4 separate regions of the Homo sapiens genome follow, and all the other regions are reported to be linked to region 2. Evidence: microRNA targets listed by miRTarBase, many of them from high-throughput screens and not tested one by one. Region 2 holds a microRNA gene; each other region holds the end of a gene's coding sequence.

Region 1 (8,390 bases), not on the chromosome of region 2:
AGAAGAGGGAGGGAGGGGGCGAAGGTTGAAAAACAAACTGTTGGGTACTGTGCTCACTACCTGCGTGATAAGATCATTTGTTTCCCAAACTTCAGCATCACACAATATACCCAGGAAACAAACATGCACATGGATCTAAAAGTCGAAAAAGAAAAAAAAAAATATATATGTTCACATACACATATATATTTTAATCTTGGGCCATGGTAAATTTTTGCTGCTGTTAGGGAATTGGGTCTGAGTAAGACTCAATGATTACTGATAGAACTGATTATATACTGATTGCTGATTGTTATTATTATATACTGATTACAGATATAACAATCAATATAACAATATCAGGAATACCTGGGGCTTAATTTCCCCAACAGATAAGATAAATCCTATTAGAGTCAAACTCTTGGTCTCAGACCCAAGTTTTCTTTCCTTCTCATGGAGAGACTGAAGCAAGCATCATTTCTGGCTCATTCCCAGCTCTAGCCCAGAACCCAGGAGAGTGTCCTACTTCTAGTAAGCACTCGCAGTATTTGCCAGCTGACTAGCTGAATGAGTGAATGAATGAATGAATGAATGAATGAATATATGAGTGTGTAAGCTGTCAGCAACCTGATGAATGAGCCTCAATCACAAATGGTTCATCCAGACAAAAGAGCCATTCTGATACACTGAATCCTTCTGTTCTATAGCTTTCTCTCTTTCCCCCTTCTTTTCCCTGGGTGTTTATACATACATGATGCCACTGAAACAAACACCTGAAGGATTGACAAGTGTACAGTGTCACCAAATTAGACTCTTTGTTAAAGTGATTGTTAATACTTGTATGTTTTAACACCTAGCATATCAGACGTACAAGAGGAGATTGAAGAACAAACATGGAAAAAAGAACTCAGGTTGCACAGAAGTCTGCCATACGAGGAAATCGACTTCTTCCAGAGAGACCAATGCCTTCTTGGAGGTGAATGAAGAAGGTGCCATCACTCCTGGGCCACCAGGGCCAATGGATTGCCACAGGGCTCTCGAGCCAGTTGGCCACATCACTTCATGTGAATAGCAGGGACTAGCTGGCTGGACTGGCCCCCTTCTTTTTCAGTGGCCAGTAAAGACAGTGTGCAGCTGACACATGAATCTTGTTGGTAGGGCCAGTGTGAATATTTAAGTGTTCAATGTTAGAATATTTATATTTTCATGTGGATTGTGAATTGTGATGGGATCACTTTTGGAGATTCCCATTTCAGGGAGTTTCTTCTGGGGGTTAACATAACGTATCAATGAGCTGCCTTGTATGTTCTTGTCTTCCCATGCAGCAAATAGTACCTGGCAGTAGGTAAAATCCTTCATTAGGGGAACTTATCCTTATGTTGTGGATTTTTTTTTTTTGAGACAGAGTCTTGCTCTGTTGCCCAGGCTGGAGTGCAGTGGCACAATCTCGGCTCACCACAACCTCCGCCTCCTGGGTTCAAGTGATTCCCTTGCCTCAGCCTCCCAAGTAGCTGGGATCACAGGTGTGTGCCACCATGCCTGGCTAATATTTTGTATTTTAGTAGAGATGGGGTTTCACCATGTTGGCCAGTCTGGTTTCGAACTCCTGGTCTCAAGTGATCTGCCCGCCTCAGCCTCCCAAAGTGCTGGGATTACAGGCATGAGCCACTGCGCCCAGCCACGTTGTGGATTTTAATTGAACAAGAGTTAGAACTCTAAGTAGAGGAGATGTCACCTCATACTGCAGGGTGACGCAGACCTATGTGACTTCTTGACTCTGGGCAGGTCCTCAGGTGCACTGAGAGGAGAACAAATAGCTCTTATAATAAATGGGGCAGTTTTCTCAAATGATTATTATTTTTAAGAAATTGAAAATCATTTTGATTATAGATGTAACACAAGCTTGGAAAGAATTTAAAACACACATACGGTTAAAAATGGAATGCCCTGTATTTTCACTTTCTAAAGATTGACACATGGTTGGGCACAGTGGCTCATGCCTGTAATCCCAGCACTTTGGGAGGCTGAGGTGGGCAGATCACCTGAGGTCAGGAGTTCAAGACCAGTCTGGCCAACATGGTGAAACCCCATCTCTACTAAAAATACAAAAATTAGCCAGTCATGGTGGCATGCACCTGTAATCCCAGCTACTTGGGAGGCTGTGGCAGAAGAATCACTTGAACCCAGGAGGCAGAGGTTGCAGTGAGCTGAGATCACGCCACTGCGCTCCAGCCTGGGTGACAGAGTAAGACTCTGACTCAAAAAAAAAAAGAAAGACCCATGTGTATCCTTCTAAGCTGTGTATGTAAACTGTATCATTTTAAGAACCTTGAGATCATTCCATATATTGTTTTGTAAGTCACTTGATGACACATTATGGAACATCTTTGAGTGTCAGTCTGTGTTGACCTACCTCATTCTTTAGTATAGTAGTGATGTGGAAGTATTCTATTGTGTGGAAGGACTGTAATTTATTTAACCACTCCTTATTCATGGACACTTAGATAGCTTTCAGCTTAACAGTATTACAGTGCTGTTACAAACACTTTTGCCTTTAGGTGCAAGTATTTCTGTAGGCTCACTTCCTGTGACTTGAATTTCCAAGCCAATTGCTTACCGAAATGTATGACAGATTGCTATCTGGCAACGTTGTACAGCAGTGCCTGAGAGGGCCTGGTTTCCCACAGTCTCACCAGTCAAATGAATGATCAATTTTGATTGGTTAAAACATCTCATTTAAAATTTCATTTAGGCTGGGCGCGGTGGCTCACGCCTGTAATCCCAGCACTTTGGGAGGCCGAGGCGGGTGGATCACGAGGTCAGGAGATCGAGACCATCCTGGCTAACACGGTGAAATCCTGTCTCTACTAAAAATACAAGAAATTAGCCTGGTGTGGTGGCGGGCGCCTGTAGTCCCAGCTACTCTGGAGGCTGAGGCAGGAGAATGGCGTGAACCCAGGAGGCGGAGGTTGCAGTGAGCCGAGATCATGCCACTGCACTCCAGCCTGGGCAACAGAGCGAAACTCCATCTCAAAAAAAAACAAAAAACAAAAAACAAAATTTCATTTAAAAACTGAATGAACTAAAGCATTTTTCACAATCACTTGGCAACTTATGTCCTTTGCCTGCTTTTCTATTGTATCTTTTCCTTTTTGATGTATAGATTTTGAACCATAATGATAAGTGACAATGTGTCCTATGTTTTGTCAACATTTTACCTACTCGTTTATCTTTTGTTACTCTATGTCTTTTGCAATACAGAGTTTTATTTTTTTAATATATTCAGCTTATTAATCTTATTAAGAATGTTTTTTTTTTGCTCTGATCTCTGCCAAATGTTAGCATATTTATATATTTGTGTGGATTGTGAATTGTGATAGAATCTTTTTTTGAGAATGTATTTGGCCCCTTTTCAGGGAGTTCTTTCTGGGGGCTTACACAACATATTTACTAGCTGCTGTGTGTACTTCTTGTCTTCCCATGCAATACATGATGCCTGGCAGTAGGTAAATCTGTCCTCTACTAGAAATTATTAAAAATATTTTCCCATATGTTTTTCTAATACTGTGATGGAGCAAATACATACATACTTATTCCATTTTGAATTTTTCCTGTATGGCATAATAATCTAATTTTTTTATAGTTAATTATCCAAACATCATATATTGAATCATTATTCTTTTATCTACTGATTTGAAATGCTACCCTTATCACATAACTTCCTATATAATGTGTTTTTGTTGGGACTCTGGTTCCATTTTGTGTCTATTCTTATTTGTAAGTTTTGAAATGTGTGAGAAAGTGTTTTGAGATTTAATGTTTATAATGTTATTTTGTAAGTATTCCCAATAACTTGTGGGTTAATGCAATGACAATGATTATTGTATTTTCCACCAATTCAGAAAGCCTTTGTGGTAGTACAGAAGGAGCCCCATTAGGTCTTAGAGCCACGGCACTTTTTATATGGAAAAGAACTATGCAGATTTGTGACTTGTTAATTCTCAACTGTTGGTTTACTATTCGGAGAGTCCCCTTTATCCATATGATAAATGTTTACATAATGAGAAGCTAGTCTGTGCTATGTTCAGGCACATGGGACATGGCTCCTGCCCTCACAAAGTTTATAGTCTAGTAGGGGAATAGATCACTGCAATGAACACAGTTAGGAGAGTTGCAAGTAACAGAGATTTCCAGCTCTAAAATGAGTATTACCGTGAGGTTTTTTTTTGTTTGTTTTTTGTTTTTTTTTTGAGATGAAGTCTTGCTCTGTCATCCAGGCTGGAGTGCAGTGGCGCGATCTCAGCTTACCGCAACCTCCACCTCCCAGGTTCAAGCAATTCTTCTCCTGCCTCAGCCTCCCCAGTAGCTAGAACTACAGTCACGTGCCACCACGCCTGGCTAATTTTTGTAGTTTTAGTAGACATAGGGTTTCACCATATTGGCCAGCCTGGTCTTGAACTCCTGACCTCAAGTGATCCGCCTGCCTTGGCCTCCCAAAGTGCTGGGATTACAGGCGTGAGCCATCGTACCCGGGCTCCATGAGTTTTAAAGAATCCACAAAAAATGAATTTCTAAATTGTTTCTCCACATAGACACCTAAAACAAAATGGTAAAATTTAATGCTGTTCTGAAAGCTTAACAATATGGTCAGTATTTACAACAGTTAGGACGTTCCAAGGATGAGGGACACCAAAAGGATGAGGGATACCAAAGGCCATCCTTTAAGATAGAAACAACACATCAGAAGATGGCCATCTCCATAGATGGTTTGTAAACATGTTACTGACAAGAACTTGAAATAGTGAAGATGTTCAGAAGGCCACGTTATCTTTAGAACAAAAAATATAACTGGAAAAAAGTCCGATTTGAGTAAGTTGCATTCTAATTGATGTAAAGAATCATGAGTTAATAAAAGCTGGGACCTATATGAAACTCAGAAGTGGGGCCAGAGAAATCATGTTAAGCAGAATGAGTCCATGTCTAAGAGGAAAGAGGCAGCTGGATGGTCGTGGCAGCAGAGTGCAGTGGAGAGAACACAGGCTGTGTCAGGGCTGCCTGCATTCCACTTTTTTTTTTTTTTTTGAGTTGGAGTTTTGCTCTTGTTGCCCAGGCTGGAGTGCAATGGCGTGATCTCAGCTCACTGCAACCTCCGCCTTCCAGGTTCAAGTGATTTTCCAGCGTCAGCCTCCCGAGTAGCTGGGATTACAGGCACCCGCTACCACACCTGGCTAATTTTTGTATTTTTTTTTTTTTAGTAGAGATGGGGTTTCACCCATGTTGGACAGGCTGGTCTCGAACTCCCGACCTCAGGTGATCCGCCTGCCTGGGCCTCCCAAATTGTTGGGGTTACAGGCGTGAGCCACCGTGCCCAGCCTGCATTCTACTTTAATAGCTAGGAGACCTCCACAGCTATTGGTTGAAGTCAGTCAGAGCTGAAATTGAACGTTTACCTTGGGTATCTGGGCAACTTTGGGCAAGTGACAATCCCTCTGGGGTTTAGTTTCCTCTCTAAAAAAGGTTGATAACACATTCAATCCTGAACAACCTGAAAACGAGGCAAGGTGAAAACACCTGGTCCAATCCATAAGTGATCAATACTTGTTACATCCCCTACTTTTTTCTTGTGTAATCAGAAATACCCTTTGCGTCGAGGATCATTCAGCCTAACCCAGTTAATGAATGACATGTTGGTCTCTAGGCAACCTTCCCATTGGCCTTGACATGTACTTTCCCCAGCAGGAGGAGCCCCTTCTGAATGTCCAGCCTTCCTCATTCTGTTAGACCCACCTATAGCTTCCTTGTAAGCTAATAAATCAGCAACATGGTTTATCAGTGTCCTGAGGTTTTGCTTAGCACAACCTTTGGAATATGGTTATAGTTTGGTTGAGTGAATAAAACTATGTCTCTAAACCTGTAAAAATTGAAGACTACTTTTAAATACTTCCTATCAGTGAATCTCCTCAATAGTTACAAATTCAGAATCTTCTAAATATGTATGAAGATCTTGAAAAATTGGCATAGTGTTCGCTACCTTATACGGAATGGTGGAAACTGAGGCAGAATTGGAAAGGCACACACTACTTGCTGGGACCCAGTATCAATTGCTGTCTTTGTCCTTATGAACAGAATCAAGATATTGTTCATAGCTAGACAGCAACACATCTAGCTAAAAATAACTTTCTTGAAGCTAGAGATGGGCATCTGACAGATTTTGCTAAGACAGAAGGAAAAGTCTGCCCTTGACTTCTGGGAAATTTTGCTTTCTTGCCCTAGTACTGTTTGACCCATTTTCCTTGCCAATTCTTGTTTCTTTTCTGGAATGTGGATATAATAGCTGGAGCTGTGGCAGCCACTTCCAGGCCAAGGAAAGGCCAAGGATATTTATAGCGCTGTTGACATTCTTGAGCTATAGAATTAACTGCCTACTTCTGAGCAACTGCCTTCTGAGCTTGGTTTCTTAAGGAAAGAAAATAAACTCTAAGCCCTCTAGAATTTGTGAAAGGAAAATAAAAACTTGGGACCCCAATTCACTCCGCCAAAAGGAAAAAAATGAAGCTGAAAGCTGAGTCATGCAAGAAACTGCATTTCCTTTTGTTCCTAAGCAGATAGCTACAGATAAAAGGTTAAATATCTCCACAGGTAGTTACTCTACGTTCACCTTATCTATGTGCTGAGTGCAAGATAAATACATAACTATTTCCCTATCTGCTCCTTTTCTCCTGCAACATGTGGGTTCAGTGATGTGACCATACCCCTCTTCTTTCCCCTCCAGCTCACTTTTCTCCTTTAAATATTGAAACCCTCAAATTCATCTTTGGAGAAAGGCACAGACCACAGACTATTTCTGTGATTCCATGTCATTTCTTCCAGGCATGTCCTTCACCTTGGCAAAATAAACTTCTAAATTGAGACATGTCTCACATACTTATTGATTTACAACTTGTAGGCCTGTTTGGTTGCTTTTGCTTACTTGCAGTCAAATATAATCCCAAATTGATACAGTAAAGTTTCGATTGGCTTTAAAATATTATGCAGGTCAGCCTATAATTTATTACATTTATCTCTACCATTACAATGTTTCTGAATTATGAATATTTCTGAATTATGTAAAATGGAAAGCCTATCATTATCAAGGTGTCTGTATCTGGAAGATAGGTGTATTAAGCTGTTTTTTAAATTTATTGGATTATCACATTACATATAGATAACTAGTCCTTTTTAAACCAAAAAATCTGGCAGGCTATCTGGGACCACTGATGTAAAAGAATCTTTTCTCAACAGCTGTTTATTTCCTGTTTGCCATAATAATTCAGAATTATCTCTACTAATGACATGCACTGAAGTTTTGATTTTGGGATAAAATTGTTTCTAATTCTGCAATGCTCAGGACTACACTAAGATACTCAATCTTTTAGAATAATAACGAGTTCAGTTTTGTAAATATATTCTACTACAATATGTGCTTCCCCTTCTATAGCATAGAGTTGTCACTGGCAATCATTTGGCCAGTTCTTGCTGATGGAATGAGTGACAGCAATGTGTTTTGCATGTAAGCCTGGCTCGTAAAACCTCTCCATAGGCAATCCTTCGTGGGGAATGGAGGCGATTCTCAACCTTGGAAGCTATGTGTTGATTACAGTACTTTCATCAGCCCGGGCTAAAAACTGAGCCAAGTAGATCTGATTGCCAAGCTGTTCACTTTTCCAGAACTGTTAGATAAACTAGAAATAAACTATTACGTTTAAGCCATTCCATATCTTCAGTTTATATTTTCTAGCACTTAGCTAATACAAGCTGTGTTAAGAGCTGAATTGTACTTATTCATTAATTTGAGATGAGTGTTTCCATGTGCCACCCCAGCTGCGTGGCCTCACCTTGCTTTCTAACCAGACTGGCCCTTGCAAGTGGCTCATACCATTCCATGCTGGTGCAGCCAGATCCCAGCTGAGGGCAGTAACATATTTACCATCATGAAGTTTCCATTCATAGGTCATAAAGCTAAATCTGCATTTTCTTCCCCCCATTCCATTTCCTAGTGACATTCGTTCCAGAAAAAGCAACCTCCAGCTCCACCCTCTCCCATCTATGTTGACTTCAGATGCGAGCTAATCACCTCCAGCTGTACTGGCCCCCAGCGCTCTGCTGGCCTAGTTTCACATGCCAGTGCAGGAAAACAAGGCCTCATGATTCCAACTCTTTCAGAAAAGAGATTTCCAAATGTCATTTAAAGCAATAGAAACCTTTTTTTCAAATGAAATCTCCGGCTACAACCCAATCTATAATACTCTTCTGATTGAAGTGGGAATGGTAAAGCTTCTCTTGCCATATTCAGAGCCAATTCTGAGGTAGGACCCAAGCCTCTTATCTGCTGGGGCTTTAGCTAGTTACTGTGGGGCTTTATGTTTATTGAT
Region 2 (8,390 bases):
GTCAAGGGAGAGCAAGGAGTGCAGGTGCCTGAGCCAAGGGGTTGAGGGAGAAAGGAAAAGGGGGTGTGAGATCAGAGAGGCCAAAGGAAAGCACAGGCCACTGAAGGATCTTTGGCTTTTACACCAACTCATGAGCCAAGAAATAACATGTTCTGACTTTGGGTTTTTAAAGGATCCCTCTGAGTGCTGCAGGGACAAGGGTGAAATCAGGGAGACTGGTTGAGACTCTTGCCATAATCCAGGCAAAAGGTGATAGGAGCTTGGGCAGGTTGGGGCTGTTTGAGAACCCCCAAGTTGGCATCCTCAGGTCCTCCCCAGTTCCTGGCATCTTGTAGGCACTCAGTCATTGTCTCATGGAGACATGAAGGCGCTGATGAACATGAGTCCCTGCAGACTGCCCACATGATTGCTCCTCAAGTATAAAACATGGTAGCCAAGAGTTTGGTCCCAGTAGCAATAGGATGAATGAATGAAATAGATGGTCAGGAAAGCTTCTGTGATACAGAGCGCTGGCTTGCAGGGCATAGAGCAGGAGGACATGGTTGTGCTCTTGGTTGGACTTCCTCCTGTCCATCCTGTTGCAAAGAATGTAGTGATATCGGAGGGTGCAGTGGCTGAGGGCTGTACCCAGGGAGTTGCTTTGTGTCTGGGTGATCCAGCTCAGAATTTTGCTGACTTGTAGCAAAAGGTGCATTGAGCCTTTGGCATGGATGAGCATATTTTATTGCAGAAGTGGTAGTACATGGAGCTATAATGTCACAGGACAAGATATGCTAGGTAATATGTTCACATTGAAATGCCTAATGGAGAGTTTGGTGGCATTCATGTATTGTCACGAATTGGCTTAATGAAGTCCTGTCACTCTTCCTCTGAAAGGCTCCCATAGTGTCCATAACACCTAATGAAGGGCTTACTGTGAAAACTGGGTAGGGGGATGAGCCCAGGGTACAAGGATTCAGCCGCCTCAGAAGACAACCCAGGTAGCAGCATAGAAGCAGTGAGGTGAAGAGGAAGAGAAAGCTAAGTAGGCTTCATTAGAGTCCTTGGAGTCTTTTCTGCTTTTTATTTATTTGTTTTTTCATTGTTTTTAATTAATTGCCCAGGCTGGTGTCAAAATCCTGGCCTCAAGTGATCCTCCCACCTCTGCCTCTGAAAGTGCTGGGGGTTACAGGCGTGAGCCACTGTGCCTGGCACCTGTGGAGTCTTAAGCGCTAAAGTGTGTGTACAATGATCTGCCCAGTAGTAAACATGGCTCTAGTATTCTTTTAAAATATTATCAATCAGATCATCAATTGTTCTAAAATATGGTCAACCAGATTGTCAAGTGTTCTAAAATATGATGCATCTGATCGTCAATGCTCTCTGGGCAGGGCTTGAGGAGTACAACCTGATGAGAAGCAGACGTTAAGATCCCCTTTCCTCCACTCCTGACATTGGAGCAACCATCCAGTCCTGTCTAGACATCACTACAATGCTCATTCCCTCCTTCCTTCCATTCTAGCCTGTGTCAGGCCTCACTAACTCCAAACCCACTTGTATGACAGACTGATTCCAATCATTTCTGCTCTTGTTACCGATTCTTATCTGCACTTTACTTAAAGCCCCATAATTTTGAGGCATCTGGACAGTAGGAAAGGCTGAAAACCTGGCAAGCTTTTATAGCTTGCAAAGGTCCTTGTCCTATGCTCTGTTAGTATCATTTCCAAAATACTACTTGGGCTATCTGATCACATCCCATTGCCCGTATCCTCTGAGAGTCTAAATGCTGAACTGCTTCAGAAACTAAATCATACTCACAGGACTTGGTTTCTCAGCAATTTTATCATCTGAAAACATTGTTTATGTAGCTGAGGTCAAAAGCTTCAAGTACTGCTTTAATGAGCTGCGAATCTGTTCATGTGACATTCTCTTCCAAACCCAATTGCCCTTTACACTGTATGAGTAAGTGCCTCTGTGTGTGTGTGTCTGAATGTGTGTGTTTGATGTGCTGACATTTCTGAATTGAATCCAGAAAGTGTAACCTTTGTATGTTTGCTGTTAAAACTCCAAATTCAAGCCTTAAGAAAAGGATCTAACACTTACTCAATGTGATTTATTTAAGCACAGAACCTAACTCCCCCAAAGTATCAAATACTCAAGAGAACAATTCATTTTTGAAAATTGTGATTTAAAATAATTCTCATAAAACCTTTACTGTTCAAATATATTAGAAAATATATTGCATTTTTGTCTGCATCAGGCACTGTTTTAACTGCCTTCCATGAATTGCCTCATTTAATTCTCTCAACCCTGTAAGGTAGGGTTATCACCACAGTATAGATGAGGAACTAGAGCTTGGAAAAGTTAAGGCATTTGCCCAAGGTCCAGCAACTAGAAAGCAGAGGAGCCAGGACTTGATCCCTGGACTGTACACTGCACAAGACCCTTGTAAAGATTATTAGAAGCACTTGGAGCCCCTGGTAAGGTTTGTGATTGTGCTACCAGGAGAGTCATGATAACACCATCGAATGGTGTCTGTTACATAATAGAAAAAGACTGAGTATTCTTACAATTCAAATGATTTAAATTTATTTTAAAATATTGCAACAAATAAGTAGCATCTTCACAGCTTTTATAATTCGTTGTCAGGATTTTAAAAGATGCAAATCTTATTTGTTCCTTAGGGCTTTGATTTTGAGGCTGACAAAGACGGCATGCATTGACTAACCTCTGAAAGAAGGGCATGGCAGCATTGAAATGAGGCAGCCGAGACAGGCTCATTAAGGAGTAGAGGTTTCCCTGCTCATTTCTGGTTGTTCTTTTGGGGTATCCACTGTGTGGAGTTTGCAGAGATCTTAATAAAAATATCAACCTACATTTATATACTGACAAACAAATAGCCAAGAGCCATTTAGGACACACAGCTTGGAGTCTGTTTATCTCTCTCCACCTATCTACACACCCATGGAGAACCCATTTAAACTTCAGATCAAACCAGGCTCCCTTTAGATGGTTGGAATTGTCAGGTTCCTGAGCCAGGTGAAGTTCCTAAATCAGTTTCTGTCTTAGTCCATGTTGTGTTGCTATGACTGAATACCACAGACTAGATAATTTATAAAGAAAAGAAATTTATTTCTTACAGTTCTGGAGGCTGGGAAGTCCAAGGGTGAGGGGCTTGCATCTGGTGAGAGACTTCTTGCTGTGTCATCCCATGGCAGAAGGTGAAGGGCAAGAGAGAGTATGCGTGCATGTGTGTGCATATATATGCATATGCATACATGTGTGTGCACATGCAGGGGAAAGATACGGAGCCAAACTCATCCCTTTTATTAGGATCCCACTACCAAGATAATGTTGTTAAGTTCTCATGAGGTGCCACCTCTCAACACTGTTGCATTGGAGATTCAGTTTCTAACACATGAACTTTGGCGGGGCAAGTCAACCATAGAACCTACCAGATACATGACTTTGAGTCATGTACTATTATATTATTATTTATTATTATTATTGTTATTTTGATACTGGTCCATGGCCCAGGGATTGGGGATCCCTGCCCTAAATCGTGAGGAAGATTGAGGCCCATGGGTGCCACTGGTTGGTAGCCGTCAGCTTCTTACCACCTACCGGCACCTCCATAGTCATCTTGACCTCCTTGCCCAGCTTCCATCTCTGTCTTAGCAAATATGTTTTCCCTCCCCCAACTCATGTGAGACTTACCCTCACTCCTGCTCTGGACTCCAGCCTCTTGATCCTTCATGCTTATCTCCCCTGTTTAGTCTGTCTACAGCTTCTCTCTGTATCAACAAAACTCCTATGGTTTCAAATAGGAATCTGATTTAAACTGACTTTTAAGCAAAAAATAATGATAGTTAGTATTCAGATGTAGATGGATCATCTACATCTGGTCCCAAACAATGCCAGCAGGGAAACATTTATCTATATCCCTTAGGATTACTTTCCCCACTGTGTTGACTTCATTCTTCATTCTCAGAAGGCTTTCTTGGGCACATAGCAACTCCCAATTTATGTCCCATTATCTCTGCAACTTCTACCAAAGAAAAGGGCTTCCTTTTTATAAAATCCCAGCAGCCTAGGACTCAATCTTTTTGGAAGATTATTGGGTCATATGCCCATCTCTAAGGGAATTGCTCACTGCACCAGGGGGATGGAATGTGCTGATTGACCGGGCCTGGGTCACCAGCCCCTCTTAGCCAGAGAGCTGGATCTAATCCAGACATTTTGAAAAAAGAGAAGGAATGTCCTATCTAAATCAGACATTTTGAAAGAAGAGAAGGAATATCTCCTTTAAGAAAAAAAAGCCACTGTCATGGCCGGGTGTGGTGGCTCACGCCTATAATCCCAGCACTTTGGGAGGCTGAGGCGGGTGGATCATGAGGTCAGGAGATCGAGACCATCTTGGCTAACACGGTGAAACCCCATCTCCACTAAAAAATACAAAAAATTAGCTGGGCGCGGTGGCGGGCACCTGTAGTCCCAGCTACTCGGGAGGCTGAGGCAGGAGAATGGCGTGAACCCAGGAGGCGGAGCTTGCAGTGAGCTGAGATAGCGCCACTGCAGTCCAGCCTGGGCAAAAGAGCGAGACTCCGTCTCAAAAAAAAAAAAAAAGAAAAAAAGAAAAATAAAGCCACTGTCACTAGAAGAAAAGACAATGCCTGCTGGCTGGGCAAAAACAGCAGCTGTCCTTTCTGACTCTATCCTGGCCTTCTCCTTTGTGCATAAACCTGCTATGTCTTTTTCATGTTAAAAATCCCCTACCTCAAACCTGGGAATCCTCCTTACTACTACTCTTACTACTGCTATGATTACTACCCTACCTTACTTTGCATACAAACACACTTTTGAAAGAGTTGCCAGTTCCTGCTATTTCCACTTGATGACAATTTATTGTTTCCTCAGTTTGGTGCAATCTGGCTTCTGCTCCCGCCATCCTATTGATATTTTTCTCATTGAGTCATCAATGACCTGAAAACTGCCTCTTCTCATAAGCTTGTCTCATCTTTCTTGACCTCACCATATTATTAGGTGCTCTAATCCTTTCTCCTTTAAAAAAATGTGAAAAAATAAAATATTCAAGCAGCATCAGAAGCTACAAAGTGAAATTAAGATTCCCCTCACCCATGGCTCCTAGCTAGGCTTCCTGGTTCTCCTTCCCAGAGACACCCATTGCAACCAGGTTCTTGTGTGACCTTCTAGAGAAGATGTGTTCAGGCCCAGAAATAGTCTACATCACACACAAGGATGTTAGCATGCTGTGTACAATTTCTGTATCTTGCATTATTCCCCTCTGTCTTGGAGATTGTTTCTTATCTGCTTATCTAACTCTACATCACCCTTTGAATAACTTCCTAGTTTCCTATATAAGTGAGTTTATCTGTAGGAAAAGTTCAGAGTGCCTTCTTTCTTTTTAAGCCCCTCTTCTCCTTCATTTTTATGACATTGTGTGTCTGTCTTAGTCTGTTTTGTGCTGCTATAAGAATACCTGAAACTGGGGCCTGGTGCAGTGGCTCATGCCTGTAATTCCAGCACTTTGGGAGGTTAACATGGGCAGATCACTTGAGCTTGAGCCCAGGAGTTTGAGACCAGCTTGGGGAACATGGCAAAATCTGTCTTTACACACACAAAAATTACAAAAATCAACCAGGTGGGGTGGCACATGCCTGTAGTCCCAGCTACTTGGGTGACTAAGGCAGGATTGCTTGAGCCTGGGAGGTCAAGGCTGCAGTGTCGTGGTCACAGCTTGCTGCAGACTCGACCTCCCAGGCTTAAGCAATCCTCCTGCTCGAGTGACAGAGTGAGACCCTGTCTCAAAAAAAAAAAAGTGGATAACTTACAATGAAAAGAAATTTATTTGGCTCATGGTTCTGGAGGGTGGGAAGTACAAGATCAGGGGCTGTATCTGGGGAGGACCTTCTTGCTGCATAGTAACCTGATAGAAGGCATCACATGGCAAGAGAACACATGAGGGAGGGTAACTTACTTTTTAAATAAATTCACTCCCACAATAATAACATCAATCCAGTCACCTCCAAAAGTTCCCACCTCTCAACACTGTTGCATTGGGGATTAAGTGTCCAGCACAAGAACTTTGGGAGAACACATTCAAACCATATCACCACATTTGCTGATGTTCTTCCTACCTTCACAGCCACTCCCAATAGAAATTCCAACTCCACAAAGACTTCCAGTGACAGTTGAATTTGGAGGGTTGAGACCAGCTCATGACCCAGAAAGGAAAACAGAAAGCTTACTTTTTGTTTTGTTACAAGTGCAGTCTCTTAAAAATAACCACAAAATGCCCCCCCAAATGGCATATGGAAAACAGCACAGAGATGGTGTGTTAATCTACCTGAAATGTCTTTCTAAGGAAGTGAGGCTTGGATGGGAACGGAAATGCATCCCTTTTTCTTCCCAGGGTACACGTCTTTTTCTCACTTCCTCTAACTGGGAGCCCCAGGGCCTGGCTTTGTCTTGTAGCTTCCTGCCGTGATGCACCAGGCTAAGTGGGAAGGTTTCTGTTCTATGTCTAAAGTAGCACTGGCAGGTCCTCATTCTGCTTGTAATTGGGATGGGAATATGGGTAGGAATTTAGGGTTTGGCAGAGCGTACAGGACCTCTTTCAAGCCAGAGCACAGCCCTGTCAGACTTACTCACTGGACATGAATGGGTCAGTCAGCCCTCAGCAGTAACCACCAGCTACCATGTTAAGTATTTGATGTGAATTTTATCAAGTCATTCTCGCCACACCCTACAAGAAACTTGAGCTTAGGGGACTTAGCTAACTTGCTTGAAGGTTGTATAGCTGGGAATTGTTGGAGCCAGGATTGGTACCCAGGTTAGCTTAACTTTTAAGTCCGTGCCACACAATCAGATACATAGTATGAGGCAATGGGATGTAATGGAAAGCCCATGGGCTTTGGAATTGAACAGATGGGCTCTGGATCTTGGCTCTCCTACTTGACCCTATATGACCCTGAACAAACTGTTAACTCTTAAAATTATCTGTTAAGTAGAGATAATCCTTTTCCTGCCTATCTCACAGCCTTGTGGGAATCAAAGCTATAAAAAGATAGGCAAATAGAAGGGATAATTACTATTTGAGGGTGAGTTTACTTGAAGCCAACAATGTGGGTTTAGGATGAATGGTGAAGAATAGATAAGAAAAAAAATGATATTCTGTTGACATGGGAAGATGTTTAGAGTGTATTTCATCTAGTTTCTTTTAAAAAGCAAGCAAAAGAACAGAGTCATGATTCCACCTTTGTCTAAAAACTAAAAAACATCCATTCATCTATTCATCCAGCCATCTAGGATACAAACCAAGATGTTAACATAATACAGAGATTTGGGGTGGCGGGATTAAGAAGGATTCTTTTGTGTGTTTTAAAATTTTTTATGGCCAGGCACAGAGGCTCATGCCTGTAATCCTAGCACTTTGGGAGGCCAAGGCGTGCAGATCACGAGGTCAGGAGTTCGAGACCAGCCTAGCCAACATAGTGAAACCCCGTCTCTACTAAAAATACAAAAATTAGCTGGGCATGGTGATGGGTGCCTGTAGTCCCAGCTACTTGGGAGGCTGAGGCAGGAGAATCGCTTGAACCCGGGAGGTGGAGGTTGCAGTGAGCCGAGATCGTGCCACTGCACACCAGCCTGGGCGACAAAGTGAGACTTCATCTCAAAAAAAAAATTATTATTATAATTCCTTTTTTTTTTTTTTTTTTTTTTAGAGACAGGGTCTTACTCTGTTACCCAGGCTGAAGTGAAGTGGAACAGTCATAGCTCACTGCAGCCTCCAGTTCCTGGGCTCAAGGGATTCCCCGTGCCTCAGCCTCTTGAACAGCTGGGACCACAGGCATGCACCACCATGCCTGGCCAATTTTTAAAAAATTCTTTGTAGAGACAGGTTCTCTCTATGTTGCCCAGGCTGGTCTCAAACTCCTGATCTCAAGTGATCCTTCCACCTGGGCCTCCCAAAGTGCTGGTATTATAGGCATGGCACCACCATGCCTGGCATCTTGGTGCTTTTTAATAGCTTGTTTGTTTCTGCGATAAATGTAGGAGACTGATAGAAGAGTCTGGATCTCTTGTCAAATCTAGGATCAAATCGTGGTCAGATACTTAAACTAAACCCATTTTCTCATTGCACAGCAAGGACTTCATAGAGCTTTTGGGGGGATTAAAGGAGGTAAAGCTTGCAAAACACTTAACACAGTATCTGGCTCATAGTTAGTGCTTAACATACACTATTATTTGTCCATTTGATTTTTTTTCATCCCTGGGTTCTAGAAACGCAGTGGTGAATAAAACAGATGTGATTTTGCTCTCATGTGGCTTACAGTCTAGATGAGAACATAGACAATCAACAGAGAATGAACATGTATTAATAATTATAG
Region 3 (7,000 bases), not on the chromosome of region 2:
ACGTATTTTCTAGTATGTTGGCTAAGAGGTGGACAAAGCTTTTGGTGTGTCTAAGCAATGGCACACCAACAGCAGCAAGCACACCTAGAGAGCTTGGTTTCTAACTACCACTCCCCACTCAATGGAACCAGGGCTCCTTGGAGAAATTGCTGATTCCAGGGCTGGGTGGGGCAAATACAAGAAGAGTCTGCAATAGCTCGTGTTCAAAGAATGGAATGGATATGTCAAAGGGATACAGATACCATTTGAAAGAGACCCTACTGGACAAATCTAGACAATTTGAGTTAAATATTAATAATAATGGATTGTAATCAGTTGAATAAAATGAGAATCCATGAGTCCATACTGATATAGATAAATGACTAAATAAATGAGGGAGAAGGGAAAGTTCCACGTAATAAGAAATTATTATGCCACATAATAAGAAATAATAAATTTAGGACCAGATGCAGTTGTTCATGCCTGTAATCCCAGCACTTTGGGAGGCTGAGGCAGGTGGATTGCTTGAGCCCAGGAGTTCAAGACCAGCCTGGGCAACATAGTGAAACCCCATCTCTACAAAAAATACAAAAATTAGCCAGGCATGGTGGCATGCAGCTGTAGTCCCAGCTACTCAGGAGGCTGAGGTGGGAGAAACACCTGAGTCCTGGATATCAAGGCTGCAGTGAGCCAAAATTGTACACCACTGCACTCTAACATGGGCAACAGAGTAAGACCCTGTCTCAAAAAAAAAAAAAAAAGACAAAAAGAAAAAGAAATCTAATTATCTAATTGAAAAGTGTATAGATTTTAAGATGCCTACTGCAATAAAATGTCATGATGCTTTATTACATTTGCAAGGACTTAGCCAAACTTATCAGCAACGCTGACCCAAAGCTCTGATTGATAATTATGTTTCTGATTAATAGAAAATAGACATAGGAATTACTTTTTTAAACAAATACAGCTGACTTCAAATTGGATCAACTTATTCTTACTAATTTAAACTCAGTGAAACTGGCTCTGATCCATTTCAACTAGTTTAAGTATCTCAAATCAGGTTTAAACTGGATCAAACTGCTTTCCTTTGAAATGACCCTCCCCACTTTAAACAGCTTTCGACCAGCATAGAAAGTAGGTAAGAGTCTGGCCTCCGGAATCAGGTTCAGATTCCACCTGCATTGTTTTCACCTACTTGTCCTTGGGCAAGTTAATTTGCCCTTCCAAAAACTGTTTCTTCATCCATAAAATGAGGATAATAGTACTTTTATCATAAGCTTGTAAAAAGTAAGCCTCGTGATATATGTTCTGCCTAGCTCAAACTGGATGGACCGGGAATAAAGATGACTTGATTGACAGTTGATAATGAGCTCTTTTTTTCTAGCCCCAGTTTCTTCCCCGTAAAGATTCATCACCTGCCCACTCCTCCTTCAAGAATTCTTGACATCTTCCTCCACCTCCACTTTCTGGCTCTGAACTCCTTAAGTGAGGGTCAAACAATTGAAGCCAATTATCCTGAATGCAAATGCCCAGTAATAGTTCTATGTTCCTACCTGGGCGGAAGCTCCTAGAGTTCTCTTTCTTCAGTGTCTTTTCCCCTTCTCCCCTCCTAGCCTAGCTCAAAGACCATGTGCTCCGTAAATAAGTGTGTGTGTGTGTGTGTGTGTGTGTGTGTGTGTGGTTTTTAATTTTTTTTAAGACAGGGTCTCACTCTGTCACCCAGGCTGAAGTGTAGTGTCATGATCATGGCTCACTGCAGCCTCAACCTCCTGAGCTCAAGTGATCTTCCCTCCTCAGCCTCCCAAGTAGCTGGGACAACAGGTGCATGCCACCATCCCTGGCTAATTTTTGTGTTTTTTGTAGAGATGGGGTCCTGCTATGTTGCCCAGGCTGGTCTGGAACTCCTGGGCTCAAGCAATCCACCTGCCTCAGCCTCCCAAAGTGCTGGGGTTACAGGTGTGATCCACTGTGCCCAGCCTGCAACAACCCCTTAGGTTAAGGCAACTCCCCGTGGTCACCTGGCAAATAAGTGGTAGAGTGGGAACTTAGATCCAGTCCCCTGACTCCAAATCATTTACAGCCCTGCCTCTCCCTTGGTTCTTCTTTGTCAGGGCACTTGACAGCAGAACAGTTGTCACTCTTGATCCACACAGAGGCCGCTCATTAGACATGGGGCTTCTCCCCTGCTCCTGCCCAAGTCTGTCTTTACCCCAATACCATGATTTGGTGTCCAAGGGGAAGCGATGCTTGCAGCGCACTTTAAGAAAAAAGTGGTGATAGCTTCCAGATGAGCTTATTATTCTAAATTTAACATTCCTTTTGGTACTTAGAATTTCCACTTTCTCCCTTCCACCCCGTTTGCATTTAGGTAATTAGAAAGCACGCAACAGGAAAACATTTGTGTCTCAGTACCATTCAGGATAAAGGCTGTCCAAGCGCCATGGAGTCACATCCTTGTGGAAATACTTTGCAGAGTTTATTTGGACAGGTTCAAAAATAGTCCTTCGACAATACAATCAGATCGAACCACGACAAGTAAAATGCAATTATGGGTTGGTTACATTTTTAAAAAATGTAAACAGGTTTGGGAAAACTAAAAGCAAAACTACATCGTCATCTCCTCCATTCCCAACCCCTGCATTTCTTACAAGCAGGACTTCAAGACGGCATCTGCAATCTTTTGAAATGGATGAGAGGATGACACTCACTAAAGGAGACAGCTCAACAGTGTGTTCTGAGGCCATTTCTCAGAACAAAGGCATACTTCTGCATAAGGCAAATGCAGCCTGATAAAGCTTCCCCTAGTGGGTACATGGAATGCCAAAGTCATTCACCTAAATGAGCTCAAAATACATATTGTTCTGGGCCAAATTATACAGTGTCAAGCTCAGACTGTATGTATTTATGTATGTTGGCAGAGCAGGCCACTTTTGGGGCGCCACAGCTTTATCCTAGCATCCTGTGCCCTGCTGGGTTCCCATCGCTGTCTCCCCAAACCCATGAATTTCCTTGGATTTGGTTCCAGAAAGGCAGACAAGAAACAAAGTCAGTTGCACAAGCCCACAAGGGAACAGGGCCCCAGAGGACTTGAATTTCTAATGAAACTTAAGAGTAACACAGAATGTGTGCCTTTGCCAACAAGCCGGGACTTTCTGAAGGTTGATCTGAGATGGGGGCAGGGAGTGGGGACAAGATCAAGTGTGCTTTGGGCCAGCCTCCGCTAAGGGCAACAAGGCGGGAATACAAAGCTATCTAGAACTAAAGCAACTGGCCAGTGCTTCCTGTGGCCTCTATCCAGAACTATTCCCTCAGACAGCTGACCCCTTTCTCAGAGCACTTCAGTGGTGCTTCCAAGGTGCCAAAGGGATCCATCCAAATAAATGCCTAAAGCCTAACAGCTAATGAGATAGAGAACTTTCATTCCAATGCCCCTCTCCACTCCCTATTTTTCTAATGTGTCTAGGGAATTTGTGGCTACCTTGTGTTTTGTCTTTTTTGGAAGGGGGCATGTTATTCTTCTCTCTGCCTGAATGAGGATGGGAAAATGACAGAAAAATTGGGGAAGGAAAATGCTTTTTTTTTTTTTTTTTTTTTGAGACAGATTCTCGCTCTGTCGCCGGGCTGGAGTGCAGTGGCGCGATCTCAGCTCACCGCAACCTCTGCCTCCCGGGTTCAAATGATTCTCCTGCCTCAACCTCCTGAGTAGCTGGGACTACAGGTGTGCGCCACCATGCCCAGCTGATTTTTATATTTTTAGTAGAGACAGGGTTTTACAATGTTGGCCAGGATGGTCTTGATCTCTTGACCTCATGATCCACCTGCCTTGGCCTCCCAAAGTGCTGGGATTACAGGTGTGAGCCACCGCATCCGGCCAGGAAATTACTTTTAAAGCAAATAGGAGGCTGGGTGCGGTGGCTCACGCCTGTAATCCCAGCACTTTGGGAGGCCGAGGCGGGAGGATCACCTGAGGTCGGGAGTTGGAGACCAGCATGACCAAGGAGAAACACCGTCTCTACTAAAAATACAAAATTAGCCAGGTGTGATGGCGCATGCCTGTAATCCCAGCTACTCGGGAGGCTGAGGCAGGAGAAGCGCTTGAACCCAGGAAGCGGAGGTTGCAGCAGGCCGAGATCGCCACCATTGCACTCCAGCCTGGGCAACAAGAGCAAAATTCCATCTCAGAAATAAATAAATAAATAGTAAGAAAACAAGTGGAAGGGATGAAACAGGCTGCACATTATTTTTCTTTCAATTATATGGGTTGCCTTAATCATAGAATGAAGAGGACCAAGTGAAAAACAGCCAAGTAGCAATAAAGAGGAAAACAAGCCCAGAGGGCAGAGGAGCCTGGACAGTTTGCAGGGCAGAGCCTAGCAGACCTTTCTGGAAAAGGGAGTGGGGAGGCTGAGGGAGGGTATTTGCTACCCTGAATGTACTCACTATAGCACTTGCAAGAACTAAGGTCTAATCAATGTTCCAGAACTGGAGTCAGACATGAGTTGTACCCTATTGCCCAGCCTCCCCCTCCATGCCTTTCCCCTGCCCCTACACACCCTGGCTATGCTGAACTACTTGCGATTTCCCAGCTATAATATGCATTACATGATCCTGAGCAAACACAGAGGCTACCCTCCTTCTGTCTGGGATTCCCAGTCAACTTCGGGTCCCAGCGCAGGCATTCCGTCGCCTGTGGGGCCATCCTAGGGAGACATAGTTGCTCCTTCTCCTTTGTTCTCAGTGTACTTTGCCTACACCTCTCTTCTCCATTAAAACACTTCTTTCAGAGTTGTGTTTGCACGTCTGTCTTTCCATCAGACTCTAAGCTCCTTGAAGGCAGAAGCCTGTGTCTATTTATCCATTTATCTCTGCTGCTTACAACAGTGCCTCGCTTACAGTAGATGATAAATCAACATTTACAGGATACAGGGGCAAGTGGGATCGGGCTCTCCCTATCTTAATTCTACGATAAGGAAAAAGAAATAAGAACGGCTGAGCGCTGGGGTTCTGTATATCGTCTGAAGAAATTGCTAAAATATGACTTTTGCATCTAGCATCCCTGGTTCAAGTGAAACCACAGGAACAAACTCAGAGGGGCATCAGAAGTGGCCCTTTTGTCCTCAAACTTCAGCTGCTACGTGAAGATAAAATTAACCCCAATCGGGCTCCTCCGGCCAGGTGGGTATGCCATGAGCTTTCCTCCGCCCTCCAGAGCTGAAGCTTGGACTGTCTCAAGCTCTATGAAGCTGCAGGACTTGACTTCAATGGAGTGGGCCATCCACACAGCCAGGATTCTTCCCCTGCTAATACAGCAGCAGTGGGACCGCCTTGCAGTAGGCACAGCGGAGATGTGCCCTGCCAGGTCCCCAGGTGAGAACACACGAAGAGGTGCCACAGAAGGAAAGGCGCCTTAAGACATCAGTCATCTCCATCAGGCCACGCAGCAGCAATCTTCAACTTCTGATTACGAGGTGGAAGCAGTTCTGAAAACTACGCCTGAGGGGGCAAATGGGAAGGATACCCAACAACTGGTTTCAGGGGGTTCTCAGAGAGGCTGTGAGCAGGTGGCTACAGCTGCTGGCAGTTCACACACAGTCCTCCTCATGCTCAGAGACCAAAGGTGAAGAAACAAAGGCCATGCAATGGACTTCCTCTTTTTGTTTAATTTATTTAAGACCACCTCCTTACAACTTCCAGAGAGAAAATACAAAACAAGAAACAGACTTGGTTTCAAATGCATAACCAGGTGCTGGAGTTTAAAGCATTACTGATAACATTGTTACAGAAGAATGGCAGCTTACTCCAGGGCACTTCAGTATTCCTGAGGAATAAACATGATTTCTCTTGTCCTCCCGCTGGGATGTTCTCAGGTGAAGTCACTGCTCCTGCTCCTGTAAAGCAAGGACATTCAGCTTAAAACTGTGCAGACGGCATTCTGACAACCCTCTCTAATTGCTGTATCAGGTCAGACCCAAAGGGCCAGAAGCCAAAACCTTATCACACTGTTTACGTTAAAACTGTCTCACAACAGGACTATGTACACCCTACCTAGGTTCCTAAGAGTGCCATCCAGCCCCAATCTTCCAGGGAGAAGAGTGGGAAACGAGTGGAACAGGGCCAAACCATCATGACCTGGATAACAATTCCTAAAACCTGTCGAAGGCGTCCCAGGGGAGTGGGGAGAGCATGGTTCTCATCAGCCTACGAACTACATGGCCTTGCCAAGTTTCTCAACCCCGGTAAGAGTCTGCTTTCTCATCAGCTGAATGAGGATAGTAACATCTCTCACAAATCAACTGGCAGGTCTAGAGGGAAAGATTATTAAAGATAAAGCACCCAGGATGGTCCTGGGGGCAGATTGGGCACTCAGGAGGCAGTTATTACAATAGGACTACACTGAATAAGCCCAGGTTGGGATTTTGCTCCATTTTTCAGGGAATGGAGGATGACAACATCGAGGCACAGACTCAAGTCCAGATAAAGTTACAAGGCCATTTTGGAGCAGGACACACAAATGTAAAAAATGGAACAATATTTTCCACAGGAACTCCCAGCCATTAAATACATAATATGCATATAATCACCCCTGAGCCATTATCCCTGACAACTCAGTTTGGAACAATGGAAATGTTTTAAGCAAAAGACCTGAAGCTTCTCTGTCTGCTCCTTTCGGTTCTCCCCACAATCAGCTCTGATGCCAGGAAAGCGAGGAGCCAGGGAGTGGTGGAAAAGGCCGGCTGCCGGCTTCAGTGCCACACAGCTGCGCCTCTTCTTGCATGGTCCCTGTGATGACCTCACTCTTGCTTTGGTGCAGAGATGGCTCCCCTACTCCCATCTCTCCAGCAGACATGGGCTGGCTGCAGGCAGCTGACGGTTTCAGCAGGTTCTAAAATGGCAGGTGCAGGGCCGTGGCAGGATACTGCTACTTTGGATTTGGTGGCCCTTGTGGCCACAGCTCCTGACTAGAATTAGGACATGCATTTGTACCACATTTTCCACTCTACTTGTTGTTACAGTGGAACAA
Region 4 (8,390 bases), not on the chromosome of region 2:
ATGGTGAAATCCTGTTTCTACTAAAAATACAAAAATTAGCCAGGTGTGGTGGCGGGCGCCTGTAATCCTAGCTACTCAGGAGGCTGAGGCAGAGAATTGCTTGAACATGGGGGGTGGAGGTTGCAGTGAGCCGATCTCACACCACTGCACTCCAGCCTGGGCGACAAGGCAAGACTCCATCTCAAAAAAAAAAAAAAAATTAGCCAGGCCTGGTGGTGAATGCCTGTAGTCCCAGCTACCAGGAAGGCTGAGGTGGATCACTTGAGCTCTGGAGGCTGTGACCTATGATGGCACTATTGCACTCCAGCCTGGGCGACAGAGCAAGACCCTGCCTCAGGAAAAAAAAAAAAAAGAAAGAAAGAAAGAAAAGAAAATGAGAAGCCAGTGTCCCACTTCTGAGAGTAGCATTAGGGCTAATGATCCTATGCTGAGATGGAAGAGATTCAAAACAGCAAGTCTACTGGGTCCCCACTCTGTGCTTAGACCCCTGCTAGGCCCTCAAAACCTTGTGCAGGGAGCTCACTCCTTAATAAAAACCAAACCTAGAACTGTAAGGCTTTCCTCTTGAAGGTGGGCTCTGCAGGTGGGGAGGGCTGGTGAACAGGTCGGACCTGGCTGGCTTCTGCCACCCTGGCCCCCAGAGGTGCTTTCCTTCTCAATTCTCCCGCCCACATGTAATGGAAACTTTACCCTTGGTCCACAGCTGAGATAGGCTGTGGCACCAAGTAAGTTTGCTGAAGACCAAAGGAGCTCAAAAGGGAAAAAGCAACAGAGTGCAAGTCACTTGGATTGTTGGAGCTGGCCGCCCCTGTGGCTGGCTCACTGGTGGGGTGTAGAGGGCTGCCTGAGATCCTTTGAGGACCAGGACTCCCTCACCTGGTGCCATAACATCCTAGCTCATGTCTCTACTTAGAGGATGCAGTATCTCAGCCCACCAGGCAGGAGCCACTCCAAGGCATCTGGACACCTTTATGATGAGACCTTAGAGACTCATCCCTAAAACTAAACCTTCCCTCAGCCTGATAACCTCAGCATTAGATTAAGTTCCACACTGCAACTTCCACCTCCCAGATTCAAGCAATTCTCCTGCCTCAGCCTCCTGAGTAGCTGGGATTACAGGCGTGTACCACCACGCCTGGCTAATTTTTTTGTATTTTTAGTAGAGACAGGGTTTCACCATGTTGGTCAGGCTGGTCTTGAACTCCTGACCTCGTGATCCATCCCTCTCGACCTTCCCAAAGTGCTGGGATTACAGGTGTCAGCCACCGCGCCCAGCCAAGGAACTTACACAGTGCTTGATGATATTTGATTAAGTACTAACTTGTATTCATCAATAAACTCAATATAGTGAGCACCTGCTGGTGCCAGGAGCAGCACCAGATGCTGGGGATACTGTGATGAGTGAGGCGTCCTTACGTTGTGGAGCTTACAAGTTGCTGGGAGAGAGATGTAGACCAAGTAACACTAGGTGCGGGGAGGGAGAGCAGCAGGGACCGTGGGAAGCTTTGCAGGAGCTGCTGTGGCCTAGCAGGTGAGGGATGTCTGAGCTGAAGCCTGAGGATAAAGAAGAGCCTGCCACAGAAGTGGGAGAGGTAGGTATGGAGGAGGAAGAGGTCTCCGAGCAGAGCAGGGCTGGGGAAGGCTTCCTGTAGGAGCTCCGATCCAAGCTGGACCTTGAGTGTGAGCTGGCCTAGGGGAAGCCAAGGGGGCCCAAGCAGTGAGGCGGGGATGAGTATTTGGGGGTAGTTTGGAGCCATTGGTCCGGCTACTCTGGCCACACAATTGTGTGAGAAGGAAGTAGGGGAGAATCATTCCTTTTGGAGAGGCTGGATTTGAGTGGATGGCCAGGCAACCACATGGACATGTCCAGGAGGCACTTCCAAAGTTAGAAATATGGACCCCTGGTACAGGTGAGCATGAGGGGCGACACTGTCTTCTGAGGAAGAAACTACAGAAGGAGGACTGGAGAGCCGACGACAGGGTGGACAGGGAGACAGTTGGGGGGAGGAAAGGAGCCAGTGTGCAAGATAGAGGATCGGAGCACCTTGTTCTGCACAGGCTCAGAGAACGATTCTCAAGGGGAAGGAGGGAGGAGTGGCTCATCTGTGCCAAATGTGAATGAAGTTTCCAGAGGTGCGGGAATTGGGCAGAGGAGCACAGGATTATCCATACAACGGGGAGCATTCATAATAAATTGCCTGGGTCTCTTCCTCTCTCCCAGAAGAGCACCTTTTCTCACATTGCTGGCAAAAAGCATCCCAGAGGCCCCAACAGCAGGGCTCAGACTCTGGCCATCCCTGGGGCTTCGGAGGGAGGGGGCCCAGGCTCTCTGATGGGTGCCAGTGTCCACCCTTCCCATACAGCTGACTGATGATGGGGCATGAGCATGGCCTTTGAGCTGCTGAAAGGGAAGTGGCCACAGTCTGCCTGGGTAGGCAGGTGGGGGCAGGCCTGCCTGACAGCTCAGCAGCGAGGTGGCCTCTGCCTCACCCCTCCAGGTTCCGGAGTCACCTCTGTCCTACAGCTTTGCACAGAAGGGCTCACCGGGAGTGAGGGGAAGCCTCTCTCCTTGAACAAGCCTGGCCGTGACAAAAGCTGAGCTTGACCTTTTTCACGACAGGCCCCTTTATATATTGCTGGCGCCAGGCCCCAGGCTTCCAGCTCAGCTTTTCCCGGGACCTGTCCTAGCTGTTGCTTTCGGCCAGGCTGGGCTTCACAAGAGAGGTGGGGTGGAGTTCTGGCCCAGGGAACAGTGAAACGGCTTCAGAAACCAAGGTGTGGCTAATCTGATCCAGGAACATCTGCCCCGCCCATGCCCATTAACCTTTTTTGGCACCAGGGTAGCTTTAGCCTACTCAGCCTCTTCTCCACCACTCTAATAGAGGTAAAGTTTGGGGAGTACAACCGGGAGAGGATAAGTGGGTGGGGAGAGTGGTTACAGCTATAAGGGAGGCAGCTGTGATGATTCACGCAGAAAGAACAGGGTTTCCAGTCAGAGGGGCCATTCTGAGCAACTCACGTCTCTTCCCGGGGCCTTCATTTCCTCAACAACAAAATGCAATTAGGAGTATTACACGGCTGGCACATTTTAGAGGACTGTCACAGGTAAACGAGAGAGAGAAGGAACTTTGCAAACTGTCAAGGTTAAATAAGTGTTGGTGGGTACCTTGACCACTGTCACTTAAGGAGTTTTCAACATGAAGCCTGTGGAGCCTGAATCTGGGGGATCTGTGGGGTGCCTGAAATAGTGTGTAAAATGCACTTGCGGCCTCTTGAGAAGCATGCATCAGTTTCTCAAAGAGGTCAGGGACCCAACAAAGTTTAATATCCAGACACGGCCCAAGTCCGTCCTCCTCACTTCTCCGATGAGTCAGCTGATACCCAAGGTCACACAGCTTGTCAGAGGCAGAGCCAGGATGTGGGGCCCTTGTTCTCTGCCCTCCCTCCTGGGTTAACCATTGCCCCTTCCATGTCAGATGAGGGAGAAAATGTTAGAAGGGAGCAAGTGTGGGGAGAAAAGCCAGACGAAGGGCCCAAGCCACTATCCCTGCTCGGGGTTTCCAGAATGAGGACATCATGGTAGAGGTGGGGGGACAGTGAGAGACAGGAGAATGAGGAGGCTCCAAGGATGGGAGAGGCCCTTCCTGGAAGCCCAGATTTCAGAGTAAGTGAGTCATCCTCCCTTTCCCATAAAGCCCCCACAAAAGACTCAGAGGAGGAAACACAACGCTTTCTCTAACACTGTCTTGAGATGACTTTTCTGGTTACTTTTTTGGAAAAAAAAAATTGGGGGCCGGGTGCGGTGGCTCACGCCCACCCAGCACTTTGGGAGGCCGAAGTGGGTGGATCATGAGGTCAGGAGTTCAAGAACAGCCTGGGCAACACAGTAAAACCCCATCGCTACTAAAAAATACAAAAATTAGCTGGGTGTGGTGGCGCATGCCTGTAGTCCCAGCTACTCAGGAGGCTGAGGCAGGGAATCGCTTGAACCTGGGAGGCAGAGGTTGCAGTGAGCCAAGATCATGCCACTCCACTCCAGCCTGGTGAAAGAGCAAGGTTCCGTCTAAAATAATAATAATAATAAAATAAAATATTCTAAAAGTATGACGTCAAGATGGCCTTAAAAAAAAAAGCTTTATGGAAAACTGTGACAGGCCATATACAAATGTGAGGTATTCATCACCCAAAGATGCCATTTGCTGAGCAACTACTAAGCGCTAGGCACGTGCTGGACGCTTTGCCTAAATCAGTATGTCACCACCACAAGAGGCCTTCCCTGACTACCCTGTTAAAGTAAATCCACTCCTCTCCCCACTCGCTAGTTATTCTCTCACGTTCCCTGTTTTTTCCTTCTTACTACTCCTTGTAATTTATGATGTTTTTGTGTGCTTTTTCAATCCTCTTCCACCAGACAGACTATTAGCTTGCCATGAACAGGAGTCATGTGGGTGAGCTGATGGCAGTCTATCCATACTAAGCACAGTGGCTTGTATCCAGTAGTTACCCAAATCCTTGTTAGACAAACACAGCCACGGAGCTGGAGGCCAGTCCAAACTGGCCTGTTTATCTTCCAAGTCAAGTGAGACTCAGCCTTCCCTGCCCACCCCAGAGCAATATACAGCTGAGAGTCTACGCCCCACCCCTCGAGCCTTAACATAGCAGATAAATTAATGATCTCTTTTATAAAACATTGTACAGGGAAAATACATACATAGAGAGCTAGTGCTGGGGCTGGGGTGGGATTTGCTTCTTGAACACAGATAACCAGACCCTACCCCATCAGGGTGGCTGGCCTTGGTAATCTGGGCATCCACCCACCCCTGCACTTTCTTCCCTAAAGTGGCTCACCTGCTGTCCTGACAACCAGCCTCGGCTGGTTACCACAAATAATAAAGGTCCAACATCTTCCCCCCAAAGGGAACTACTTTCTGGCTGGCCCCCACCAGCCTGCTCCTCTGAAATGGGCACTCTCCAGTCCTTCCTTCTTACTGAGGCAGCCCACCTTGACCTGGTCCCAGGAATTTGGCCCACCAGTACCTGAAGATAGGGAAGCAAGACCAAGGAATATTGTTTCCTGATATGTTTGGTGATCACAGCATCTAAACCAGGACTTTTTTGAAAAGTGGAAGGGGGTCTAATTCACTGGAAAACAAGCATAAACCTGGACTGCCCAGGCAAAGGACACGTGGTCACCCTACTGATAGGTCTCCCCTGCTCCTTTTTTTTTTTTTTTTTTTTTTTTTGAGACGAGTCTCGCTCTGTCGCCAGGCTGGAGTGCAATTGTGCAATCTCGGCTCACTGCAACCTCCACCTCCTGGGTTCGAGCGATTCTCCTGCCTCAGCGCCCCGAGTAGCTGGGACTACAGGCGCCCACCACCATGCCCAGGTCATTTTTTTATTTTTAGTAGAGACAGGGTTTCGCCATGTAGGCCAGGATGGTCTTAATCTCTTGACCTCATGATCCACCCGCCTCAGCCTCCCAAAGTGCTAGAATTACAGGTGTGAGCCACCATGCCCAGCCAGGTCTCCCCTGCTCTTAACTGGCCCAATCCTAGCACTCTTTTTTTTTTTTTTTCCGTATTTTTAGTAGAGATGGGGTTTCACCATTTGGGCAGGCTGGTCTCGAACTTCTGACCTCAAGTGATCCACCGGCCTCGGCCTCCCAAAGTGCTGGGATTACAGGTGTGAGCCACCGCGCCCAGCCAACCAATCCTACCACTCTTGACTTTCCCAAACACATTCCCCAACAGCAGCAAGCTTCTTCAGACCTCCATTCCCATCTCTGCTGCCTCCACTCTCCAAGGCTTTCTAGCATCTTAAGGCATCAAGAGTATTGGTGACTTGTAGTATCAGTGTTAGGAAAAATGCCTTCTCCAAATCCCATATGAGACCTGGCCATGTAAGGCCCCTAGTGTCAAGCCTAAGACTCATGGCTCCTTGGGCCCAGTCCCCAAAATCAGGGCTGCACAGGTCTGAATAGCAAAGCCAGGCTTAACCTTGTTTCCCATCCTAAACTTGCCAAGTGTCCTCTCTCTAGGCCTCCCTGTAGCTAAGGGCTAGGGCCAAGGAAAAATGAACCATCAATCTCCCACCTCTGCCCTTGGCCAATGCAAAGGGCTTCCATTCCACATGTGGGAGCTTCACTCCCCACCCCACACATGGTCCTTCTCCACATGTTATACATACACATTCCTGGTCCCACCTCAATGCGGCTAGGAACCCCAGGTGTCCACTCTTGCTTGGGATGGCAGGTGATGGAGGCTAAAGATCTCCCTTCGGTGCCCTGCACACCCACCAGACAGAGCTGGGCCTCAGCCCTTTGCAAGGGCCTGACAGGCAATCACAGCTATCTCGATGGGTTCCAGTTCAGTCAGTGCCCCACCCCTTGCTTTCAGAACCTGCTCAGTAGGCCGTGCTTGTAAAACTGTTTTAAATAACTCTTGCTAAAGCAGATAGTACCAGAGAGCAGAAACTCAGCGCCCAGGTCCTTAATGGTTCCTTCTCTCTACCCTCCTTCCCCTCCCACCCCCCACGTGTAAACAGTCCACAGTCACACCAGCGCTTTGGGAAACAGAAGCCCACTCTCGGTCTTCCTGGGCCACTGCTTCTCATCGTTGGTCTTTGGGGATCAAAGACTCCTCTGTGTCTGAGTCAGGTCGCCCAACACCTGCTGTGTACCTCCCACCCCCCACAAGAAACAAGTGCCCAGATCCTTAAAGACACAGTTTGTTGGAGTAGAGCTAAGAGAACCCCTGGCTCAGGAGGTGGCTTTCCGATGGGCCCCTGAGCAGACATAGGAGATGGGATGGCGGGTCCCAGGCCTCACGGTGAACGTGTTGATGGGGCTTCCATAGCGGGTGGTGGTGTAGGGAGACCTGGGGGAGAGCAAGAGATGTGAGGTGAATATCTGCAGCTGGTTAGCCAACACGTCTCTCATCTCCCCGAGGGACCGAGAGGAAAAGATGCTGCTCATACTTCTGTATTTGCCCCGACAAGCCCTGGGCTTATCGACCCCAGGGAGGGACCGCAGACATCACAAACAGGGCTCCCATTCTGGTCTGGGCCCTGCTGGCCGGAGAACATGCCTAACAGCCTTTCACTCAGAACTCTTTCACTCCTGGCCTGTGTCGGGATCCAACTCTGTGTTGGGAAATCCCTCCACCCAAGGGCCACTCAGATCTCTCCCCGCCCCACACTTAGCCTGACCTCTGGGATCTAGCGGGCAGGAGAGAGACAGACGAGAGGAGCTGGTGGGGAAAGAGAAGGGAGGTCAGGAGGGAGGTCAGGAAGGCGCCAACAGCGCCCTCTCCCGGTAAGTGGGCCTCCCTCCCGCGTTCTACCTGCAAGGCCGAAGGGAGAAAACCAAATGTTTTCTCTTGACGGATGGCCGGGACTCCTTGGCCCTCGCCTGGCTTTCCACCCCTCCTGGCTTCCCGCACCAGCCGGGCCCGCAGCTCACCTGCCGGCAGCTGGGGCGAAGCCGTAGTCGGCGCTGCCGGGCGCTTTGTGCTTGGCCTCCGCGGCGCCCCGGGCGGCGCCCTCCAGGGACAGCCTCGGCGCGTGCAGGCCTCCGGGGGGCGCGCGACCCGCCGAGTTCACGCGCCGCATCTCGGGGCCTCCGGGCTGCGGCCCGAAGCAGTTGGGAGAGCTCAGGCTGCGGCCGGTGCCACCGTGGGGTAGCCCTGGGCCTCGGTGCGGCTCCCCGACGTACAGGCGCTTCTTTATGAGCGAGCGGCCCCCTCCCGAGAAGCGCTCCAGGCCCCCAGCCCCGGCGTAGCGCGCGCCCGCGGGAAAGCGCGAGAAGCCGAGAGCCGGGGGCGCCCCGGGGCCAGCGTTCGGGAGCTGCCTCAAGTCTGAGTAGTTGTTCCGGGGAGGGGAGCTCTGGCGGCCCAGATACTGGAGGGCCGGGGCCGGGGGCTCAGGGTCATTGCTGAACTCTGGCGGCGGTGGGATGACCTCGAAGTTGAACTCCTCCTCCTCCTCCTCCCTCTTGTTCGAAGGAGAAGGTGGGGAGGAGAAGGACTTGGGCAGCGGGTGGCCCTGGGGGAGGTTGGAGGGAGCTACTCTTTCCCAGGCCACAGGGGCCTGGGGCTCTGGCTTTGTCCAGTTGTGCCTGCGGCTCAGCTCTGTGCCCTCTGCGTCTCTTCCCAGCCGCGGCCCCCACTTATTGGGTATTTCGGTCGTCAGCGGGGAGTCCTTCTCAGCCTCCTTGGGTAACTTGGGCACCACAGTGAAGGAGTTGGGCGTGCCCTGGCTGTGGAAGATGCTGTCAGAGCTGGCCTCGGCTTGGTGGCTGTGGTCACGGAGACTTCCTGGCAGAGAGGACCGACCCAGGGCAGCCCCTACAGACCTTCCCTTCTGAGCCCTCTGCCTGGCCGCCAGGAGCAGGG

Evidence for each region. The annotated mature microRNA hsa-miR-1273h-5p reads CUGGGAGGUCAAGGCUGCAGU and lies in region 2 at 5,703-5,723, shown strand. An mRNA with a match to its seed (bases 2 to 7 or 8) in the 3' UTR can be bound and repressed. Matches are read on the target gene's strand: a 7mer-m8 pairs with bases 2 to 8, a 7mer-A1 pairs with bases 2 to 7 and ends in A, and an 8mer does both.
Region 1: the mRNA of SLC10A6 is a reported target of hsa-miR-1273h-5p. The part of its 3' UTR that is shown has no 7-base or 8-base seed match.
Region 3: miRTarBase lists MICOS10 as a target of hsa-miR-1273h-5p. Seed matches in the 3' UTR shown: 8mer at 3,918-3,925.
Region 4: the mRNA of C6orf132 is a reported target of hsa-miR-1273h-5p. The part of its 3' UTR that is shown has no 7-base or 8-base seed match.

The regions. Positions count from the first base shown.
Region 1 is chr4:86,816,349-86,824,738 of GRCh38, reverse strand. SLC10A6 (solute carrier family 10 member 6) reads left to right here. Exons shown (of 6, transcript NM_197965.3): 6 at 837-1,271. The coding sequence ends at 1,051. Among named protein-coding and RNA genes, the nearest start is that of SLC10A6, 29 kb to the left of the region's middle.
Region 2 is chr16:24,197,446-24,205,835 of GRCh38, forward strand. It overlaps MIR1273H (microRNA 1273h), which reads left to right and starts at 5,671; the gene lies at 5,671-5,786. All of the region lies in intron 16 of PRKCB (protein kinase C beta), which reads left to right.
Region 3 is chr1:19,625,254-19,632,253 of GRCh38, reverse strand. It overlaps MICOS10 (mitochondrial contact site and cristae organizing system subunit 10), which reads right to left. Exons shown (of 4, transcript NM_001032363.4): 4 at 2,434-5,867. The coding sequence ends at 5,853. The region is part of intron 1 of MICOS10-NBL1 (MICOS10-NBL1 readthrough); the gene reads right to left. Among named protein-coding and RNA genes, the nearest start is that of NBL1, 16 kb to the left of the region's middle. RefSeq lists a silencer at 3,193-3,393.
Region 4 is chr6:42,097,004-42,105,393 of GRCh38, forward strand. C6orf132 (chromosome 6 open reading frame 132) reads right to left here. Exons shown (of 5, transcript NM_001164446.3): 4 at 7,460-8,390; 5 at 4,116-6,875. The coding sequence ends at 6,758. Among named protein-coding and RNA genes, the nearest start is that of C6orf132, 41 kb to the right of the region's middle. RefSeq lists silencers at 3,212-3,433, 7,341-7,390, 7,551-7,650, 7,671-7,820.